3 separate regions of the Homo sapiens genome follow, and regions 2 and 3 are each linked to region 1. Evidence: fine-mapped expression QTL. A gene starts in region 1. Each other region holds a variant in brackets. All regions are shown on one strand. Distances are between the middles of the regions.

Evidence for each region. PIP is the estimated chance that this variant, and not a neighbour inherited with it, causes the effect.
Region 2: its variant is the best candidate, but not a certain one, in a credible set for the expression of KCNH2 in ovary (GTEx, PIP 0.56).
Region 3: its variant is the best candidate, but not a certain one, in a credible set for the expression of KCNH2 in regulatory T cells (Bossini-Castillo 2019, PIP 0.61).

Annotation. Positions count from the first base shown.
Region 1 is chr7:150,977,028-150,979,680 of GRCh38, forward strand. It overlaps KCNH2 (potassium voltage-gated channel subfamily H member 2), which reads right to left and starts at 1,294. Exons shown (of 15, transcript NM_000238.4): 1 at 811-1,294. The coding sequence starts at 886. It overlaps LOC124901776 (a long non-coding RNA gene), which reads left to right. Exons shown (of 3, transcript XR_007060592.1): 3 at 1-328. RefSeq lists a silencer at 1,962-2,311.
Region 2 is chr7:151,020,933-151,023,585 of GRCh38, forward strand. It overlaps ATG9B (autophagy related 9B), which reads right to left. Exons shown (of 14, transcript NM_001317056.2): 3 at 2,513-2,577; 4 at 2,113-2,274; 5 at 256-397. Among named protein-coding and RNA genes, the nearest start is that of ATG9B, 2.2 kb to the right of the region's middle. The variant C/T (reference allele first, on the strand shown) is at 1,016.
Region 3 is chr7:150,947,879-150,950,531 of GRCh38, forward strand. It overlaps KCNH2 (potassium voltage-gated channel subfamily H member 2), which reads right to left. Exons shown (of 15, transcript NM_000238.4): 9 at 2,290-2,542; 10 at 978-1,171; 11 at 566-665. Among named protein-coding and RNA genes, the nearest start is that of KCNH2, 29 kb to the right of the region's middle. RefSeq lists an enhancer at 1,007-1,747. The variant A/ATT (reference allele first, on the strand shown) is at 1,530.

The DNA of each region.
Region 1 (2,653 bases):
AGGCACATGAATGCTGCCCACCCCCAGGACATTTGCCTAATCTGGGACCCTTCTAGAAGCCTCCCTACCAGGCAGGCATTAGGGGTGCTGTACTCCCGGTCCCCATAAGGGAATTAGGTGACAGTCTCCAGGGCAAGAAAACCCACAACTTGGGGGTACCACAGGGAGCTGCTTACCCTCAAAGCCCAGCTCTAGCCCCAGGACACCCTGTCTCCACAGAGCCCACAAGCTCGCAGCCTTGTCAAAGACACCTCCCCACCGCCCATACAGGGTCTAACTCACGGGTGACACATGGGCTCAGGGTTATATACACACGGCACACACAAGAAGAGATTATGAGCTGACCCTGCATCCACGGCTTTTCAGTCCCTCCGGCACAACACAGTCAAGATCTGGCAAGACCAGTGTGCGCGCTGGACTCTCGGGATCCCAGGGTTTGGGTCGTACACACTCTTATGCCCTTGCACACAGCCCCATCCACGTCCACGCACCCAGAGTTGGGGACACCTGCACACTCCATCCCACATCCCTTCCCTGCACACTCAGCGTGTCACACACACTCCGATCCCAAAAGCCTGAGCTGAGTTTCCCGCCCCAAGCCCCAACCCCAAACCCTTTGGCCCGGTGCCCACGGCCCCGGTGCACCAAGCCTTGCCCCCGCCGTCCCCTCGCCAAAGCCTGGGGCCCACCAGGCCCCATTGACTCGCACTTGCCGACGCACACGGCCCGGGCACGCCCCCCCATCCACACTCGGAAGAGCTCGGCCCGCCCCCAGAGCCCCCTCCCCGCTCAGCCCCCTCCCCCACTCACTCTGGCCCTCAAACTTGCGGATGATGGTGTCCAGGAAGGTGTTCTGCGGCGCGACGTGGCCCCTCCGCACCGGCATCCTGAGCCCATGGGCGGGCCGGGCGGGCCCCCACCCACCCCGGCCCGGCCCGGCCCAGCACTAGGCTTCGGGTGGCCCGGCCGGGCCGTGGTCCCCGCACCCCGCGGCCAAGCCGAGCACGGGCGCGGCCAAGACTGGACTGCGGGCGCCGGGTCCTCGCTCGGCTCCCGGCTCCCCGCTCCGGACCCCGGGCCCGGCCTGGAGCCGCCTGAGCGCGAGCCGCCCGCCGCCGGCACACCTGTCTGCCGGCCCCCGCCGAGCCGCGGGGCCCGCTCCGCCGCGTCCCCGCGCTGCGCTCCGCCCGCCCGAGCCCCGGACTCCTGGCTCCCGCCTGCCACCGCGCCGACAGCCGCTCCAGCGCCCGCGGCTCGGGCAGCGCCTGCGGCTCGGCCCGGCCGCGGAAGGGTTAATGCGGCGCGCGCCCCTCCGGCTCCGGCCCCCGCCTCCCGGCCCCCTCCCGCCTGCCGCGCGCCCGCAGCACCGCCCTCTCCCCCCCCCATCCCGCCCCACCGCGCGCGCCCGACCTTCCCATTGGCTGAGCCGCGCCGAGTGCTCCCCCAACGCCAGCCCCTCGCTCTGCCAAGGAGCCCCTGGGACTCGCGCGCCCAGAAGAGGGGGAAGGGACCCTTAGGCAGGGGAAACCGTGAGGACAGGTGCCATGGCCGGCTTGTAGGCGGCCGGGATGGGGGAAGGGATTCCACCCCCACCCCAGATTAGCGACTAAGAAACCTGATTTGAAGGGAAACGGCGGGTCCTTATGCCCTGGTTCCCCACCACGCCGAGCACTGGCTTGGTATACACAGCACGCGCTCAGTGCCTACTGTGGGTGACCGGGGCAACGCCTGGACCCTCGAAGACGAGCCCGGAGTCAAGGGAGACCCTGGAAATAGGAAAAGCAAGACAATCTGAAGGCCCCAGAGCAGCAGAGCTCTGAAATAAGGGAGGGTTAAACTTAGAAGGGGCACGCCCCCTGCCCCAACACACACACACACACACACACACACACACACACACACATACACACACACACACACACACACACACACACACACATACACACACACACACGGAGAGAGAGAGAGCCCTCTGTGGGGCTCTGCATAGGAGCTGCACAGAGAGGGACATTCTGACAGCAGTTGCGGCCTCCTAGCTGCAGGATCAAAGAGAGGTCCCTGAGCGCGAGGTTCCAACCAGGGGATCCCCGGGTGCGAGCGGCCCGCCCTCCCCCGGCAGCCCGGGGCCAGCCTTGCACGCCCAATCGGCGGGCTCGGGGCCCTGCGGCGGCGGCCACGGCCCAGCCCCTCGGAAAGCCCTGGCCTAGCCGCAGGCCCCTCCCCCCGGCCAGCTGGCTCGCTCCAGCTGCGGCTCCCTTATTTAGGCAAGGAGGCCTAGGGATGCTCAAGGGCAGGCGGGGTGTCTGCCCCGCCGCCTGCTCATCGCCTGCTTGCGTCTGAGTGAGGGTCTCCGGGCGCGGTGTCCTCGGACTTAGCAGTCAGGCAGGGCCCCGGGAAGGCCAGGGCGGGGAGGCGAGTGTTGACAGCTGAGTGGGCGGGCGGGGAGGGAGGAGTCGCAGCTGAACAGCCGAGGGTCCCCTCCCTGCAGCCGGATCAGAGACCTGTCTAGATGGATGGGGCCATGTGGGGGCTCCTGAGGGCTTGCAGCTGCCTCTGTCCTTGGAGCAGGGGCTGGGTCTTGTCACCAGCGAGAACCATCATGGGGGGAGGGGAAGAACAAAGGGCAGGGAAGGAATCGGAGTCCCGAAGGAGG
Region 2 (2,653 bases), 44 kb after region 1:
ACAAACATGTAACTATATGTCATCTTATATGAGCCATCTAAATAAACTAAACTCCCTTAGGGTAAGGGCCATGCTCTCTAGGTGGTGGTAGCCCCCTCCTGACATTATTCTGGGCCTAGGGCAGGTGTCAATAAGACCTCGCTCTTTCTGCCCTCTTTCCAGTTGGCCCTTCCACCTGTACAGTCCCACTTCTTCCCCTCTCCTCTGCCCACCCTCTCACGGCACCCTCTGCACAGACACAGCCACCCAGCTCACCGGGGGGATGTGCAGGGCCTCCCTGTAAAACACCTGGATGTCCCAGTAGCTGAAGAGGTTGCAGACTGAGCGAAGCAGTTGGACCAGCCAGAAGCCGGCAGCCAGGACCAGGAGGAGGACCAGCAGCGGGCTGGAGCGGATCCTGTATGGGGTTGGGCGGGCAGTGGGGGAGAAAGGTGGGCGCCTGAGAAAGAGGCAGACCAGACTTCGGGAGTGAGGAAAAACCATCATGAGGAGGGGGATCTAGCTAGACCAGCAGCTCTCAAGGTAGAGCCCGGGGCAGGGGGTGGGTGCTGAAGTGGCCTTCACAAATGTGCAAAGTCAAACTTTTTCCAAATAATACTAATGCTTTCTGATGTTTTCATTCTTGTACTCTGAGAGTACAGTGGAGTTTTCCAGAGGCTACAAGACACGTGAACATGTCACATCACACTGACAGCTGATGAAATGTGTGCTTGTACACTCTTTTTTTTTTTTTTTGAGATGGAGTCTTGCTGTGTCGCCCAGGCTGGAGTGCAGTGGCGCAATCTTGGCTCACTGCAACCTCCACCTCCCGGGTTCAAATGATTCTCCTGTCTCAGCCTCCAGGGTAGCTGGGACTACAGGCGCCCGCCACCACACCTGGCTAATTTTTGTATATTTTAGTAGAGACAGGGTTTCACCATGTTGGCCAGAATGGTTTTGATCTCCTGACCTTGTGATCCGCCCGCCTCGGCCTCCCAAAGTGCTGAGATTACAGGTGTGAGCCACCACGCCCAGC[C/T]GCACTCTTACATTTTAAAGTTGTTCTCAGCTACAATTTCCTTCTTTTTTTTTTTTCCTTTTTATTGAAACAAGGTCTCTCTCTGTTACCCAGGCTGTAGTGCAGCAGTAGAAACATAGCTCCTATCTCCCTGCCAAATAACGGCCCAGGTCTGGAACAGTTATTTGGTTGGTTGGCAAAGAGAACATTGCAATCCATGCTTCAGGGAGGAAGGTTGTGAAGGCAACAATGAAAATGAATCGTCTGCTGGGAGGGAGGAGGGTGTAGGGATGCTGCAGTGATCAGAGACAGTCACTGTCTTAGCCTCCTGACTAGGCTTAGCTAGGACTGCAGGTACGCACCACCAAGCCCAGCTAATTTTTATTTTTTATAGAGATGTGGTCTCACTTTGTTGCTCAGGCTGATCTCAAACTTCTGGCTTCAAGCAATCCTCCTGCCTCAGCCTCCCAAAGTGCTGGGATTACAGGTGTGAACCACTATGCCCGGCCTAATTTTAATTTTTTATAAGGTAAAATGTGGATAGATACGACTCCCATAAACAAAAGCTTTTCAGGATTCTCAACCAATTTTAAGTGTATTAAGATACACTTAATGCACTGTAATTAAGATACACTTAAAAGGCCGGGCACAGTGGCTCACACCTGTAATCCCAGCACTTTGGGAGGCCAAAGTGGGTGGATCACCTGAGGCCAGGAGTTCCAGACCAGCCTGGCCAACATGGTGAAACCCTGTCTCTACTAAAAATACACGTGGTGGTGCACGCCTATAATCCCAGCTACTGGGGAGGCTGAGGCAGGAGAATTGCTTGAACCTGGGAGGTGGAGGTTGCAGTGAGCCAAGACCTCACCATTGCACTCCAGCCTGAGCAACAAGAGTGAAACTCTGTCTTAAAAAAAAAAAAAGATATACTTAATACACTTTAAGTACAACTTAATACACTTAAGTACAACTTAAAGTATATTAAGTGTATTTTTGGTCCTAAGACCAAAAGCTTTGAGAACTGCTGATCTAGATGACGGGACAAAGTGGGGCTCCCGTCTACTCCTCTACCCACTGCCCATGCTTCACCCCCAGGGCCCCACCAGGTTGTCACTAACCTCTCAGCACACTGGGCTGAGGGTAGGATGGCATCTGACAGGGTCACTTTGCTGTGGAACGGCCCAGGTCTGGTATGGTTACTTGGTTGGTTGGCAAAGAGAACATTGTAATCCACGCATCGAAGGAGGAAGGTTGTGAAGGTGACAATGAAAATAAATTGTCTGCCGGGAGGAAGGGGGGGTGCCGGGATGCTGCAGTGATCAGGGACAGCCAGGTGGGCTCCTGCCCCAGCCCCCAGAGCAGCCCATGGTTATCCTCCCTGACCCTGCCCCTGCTGAGCCCTTGGGCTGCTCGGGAAAGCATGGGATGGAAGCAGCTGGCACAATTAAGGAAGCAAAATGACAGAAGGAAGCCATGGGCCCAGGGGACCGAGTTCCGGGCCCGGGCTAAGCGTCTCACCCCAGCTGGAAGACATCCTCCAGCAAGATGCAGGCAAAGCCATTCCGCTGGTGGTAGCTGTAGATGTGGCTGCGTGTCAAGGAACAAGCCTGAGGCACGGGGGGCCTCTCCTGAGGACACCTCCCCTCAGCCCCAACAAGT
Region 3 (2,653 bases), 29 kb before region 1:
CTGTGGGAAACAGAGAATGGGCCTCAGAGAGGGGAGGAGAACAGAGAGGAGGGGGCGAGGGTGGAGGAGGGGACAGGAGCGAGCCCGAGAGAGGACTGGGCAGGAAGCCCTGGTTTGTCCCCAGTCGCTTCTTCTGCTATCTTGCACCCACTGTCAAGCCGACCAAGAACTCCCAGGACCCCCTGACTGCCCAAGCACTGGCAATGGTGCTTCAGGGGTTGGCGGATCTCTGGGACTGCGGGGCCTCAGCCCCATCGTTGGCTCCCTGGCCCTCCTTTGTTCTATGTTCTTTCCTCCTCAGTGCTCACAGAGACCCCAGCCCTGTGAAGTCCAAAAAGCCTAGGCTTGCCCTGGAGGGTGGAAGAGGGCTTCCTGGAGGAGGTGACAGCTGCAGGGGCCCTGAAAGATGGGCAGCATCTGGACAGCTGGGGTGTGGAGTGGGCACACTGGAGGAAGGGATGGGAAGGTCTGAGGCCTGGGTAAAGCAGACACGGCCCACCCCGCCTTCCAGCTCCCAGCCTCACCTTGTCCCCGCCCTCCCCCTTCCTCCCCTCCCCCGCCTCACCCTTGTCCGTGCGCCTGCGGAAGGACAACTTGCGCTTGCGTTGCCGACTGAAGCCACCCTCTAACTCCGTACTGCCGGGGGAGCCCGGGATCATGTTGGTCTGGAACCAAAATCAGTATCAGGGCCCTTTCAGTGCTCTCCTGCCCCACCGGGGTCAGGCCCCAAGCTCCCTCCTTAACACAGAAAAAGTAGGGCTGGGCGCCCCAGCTCTGGGAAAACCCTTCCCTGCCCCCAATGTGATTTTGCCCCAGGCAAAGACTGAGTTTGGGACTTTTGTAGGCTGCTCTATGATACCATTTGACAGACAGGGAAACTGAGACAGAGAAGCATCACATTCAATGTCACACAGCAAAGGGGCAGCCACACAGCTGGAAGCAGGAGGATGGGGTCCAGCTCAGGGCAGCCAACTCACATCTCGCAGGTTGAAGGTGATCTCCAGGCTGGACCAGAAGTGGTCGGAGAACTCAGGGTACATGTCCAGCACCTCCAGCAGGTCGTCCCGATGGATCTTGTGTAGGTCACAGTAGGTGAGGGCCCGCACATCCCCGTTCGACTTGCCAGGCCTTGCATACAGGTTCAGAGGCTCCCCAAAGATGTCATTCTTCCCTGGAGGCCATGGAGAGGACAGGGAGCTCAGCCCCGGGGGGCGGCATCCAGGCAGCAGGCACCTTCTCCCGGCATCCCCACCCCGGGCAGAGCATGTCCCCTCAGCTGGGTCGCCTGCCAGCCGGCCCCCAACCCACACAACCGGGGAAGCAATCTGCCAGCCCACCCTCCCTCAGCTCCCAGCAGGCACGACAGTGCCAGAGGGGCCAGGAGCCCAGGGTCTCCCAGCAAATGAGACCCAGCCAGCAGGACTACCCCAAACCCCAGGTCCCAAACACCCTCTTAGCCAATCACTGCACCCTTATAAGCAATGTTCTTCAAACCAAAGATCAGAACACAGTAGTGAATCAAAACCAGC[A/ATT]TTTTTTTTTTTTTTTTTTTTTTTTTACTGAAAGAACATACAGTAGTATAGCTTAGCACAGCACAGAACAGAAATGCTAGAATGAACCACATGCAGTAAGGCCCAGTGTTATGTAGTGAAACTTTGATTTTAGTTTTGTGGGGGTGTGTATTTGTGTTTGTACAGAGCTGAGAAACAAAGTCTAAAATGTCCTACCATCAACTATGGTCGAAAGAGCTTGCTATATCTGCCCTGAGGCACACAGGGCCGAGGGAAGGACAGGCAAAGGGGGAGGAAGTCCTCAGTGTCCAGACACACCAACCCACCCACTGTGCACAGGCAGGGTAGAAAGGAAGTGGGGGGAGGGGGCAGGACTCCCTTTGCTTTGGATGTGTCAAGGGGCCAGGCATGAGGCTGCAGGGAACCACATGGCCCTTAGTGAAACCAAATGCCGAGCTTCCAGGCTAGCATTTCTTCCTCTACTGCCCAGGCTAGAGGATCTAGATTTGATCCTACTTTAAGGAAGCAAAAAGTGTCTGTTTGTGGCGGATCCTGAAGGGAAGGAGAATGTGGGAACCCCAGAGTTCAGCAGCCTCACCCCACGTGGGGCTCCTCTCCATGGCCCCGCTTGGAGGGCCTGAGTTTAGGTGAATTAAAGGAGCCCAGTGACCCTGCAGGCAGTCCCAGGTCCACAGCCCCAGTGACTGCATATTCAGAAGGCTCGCACCTCTTGAGGCTGCAGAGGGCATTTCCAGTCCAGTGCCCGCCCCCCACCCCATACCCAGGATGGCCACGACGACGTCGCCCCGCAGGATCTCGATGGAGCCCCGGGAGATGAAGTACAGGGCGGTGAGCAGGTCCCCAGCATGCACCAGTGTGTCCCCTGGCGGTGCATGTGTGGTCTTGAACTTCATGGCCAGGGCCCGAAGGCAGCCCTTGGTGGCCCCTCGGAAGGGTTTGCAGTGCTGCAGCAGTGAGCGGTTCAGGTGCAGGCAGATGTCAGCCTGCAGGCACTCAGGGAAGCCCTTCAGCACCTGGGGGCAGGGTGGGGGCAGCTCAGCACACCCTCCCTTGGGACCCCCCAACCCACACTCTACTCCACCATCCCACCCCTCCATGTCAGAGAAATCTCAACCTCCAGGCCT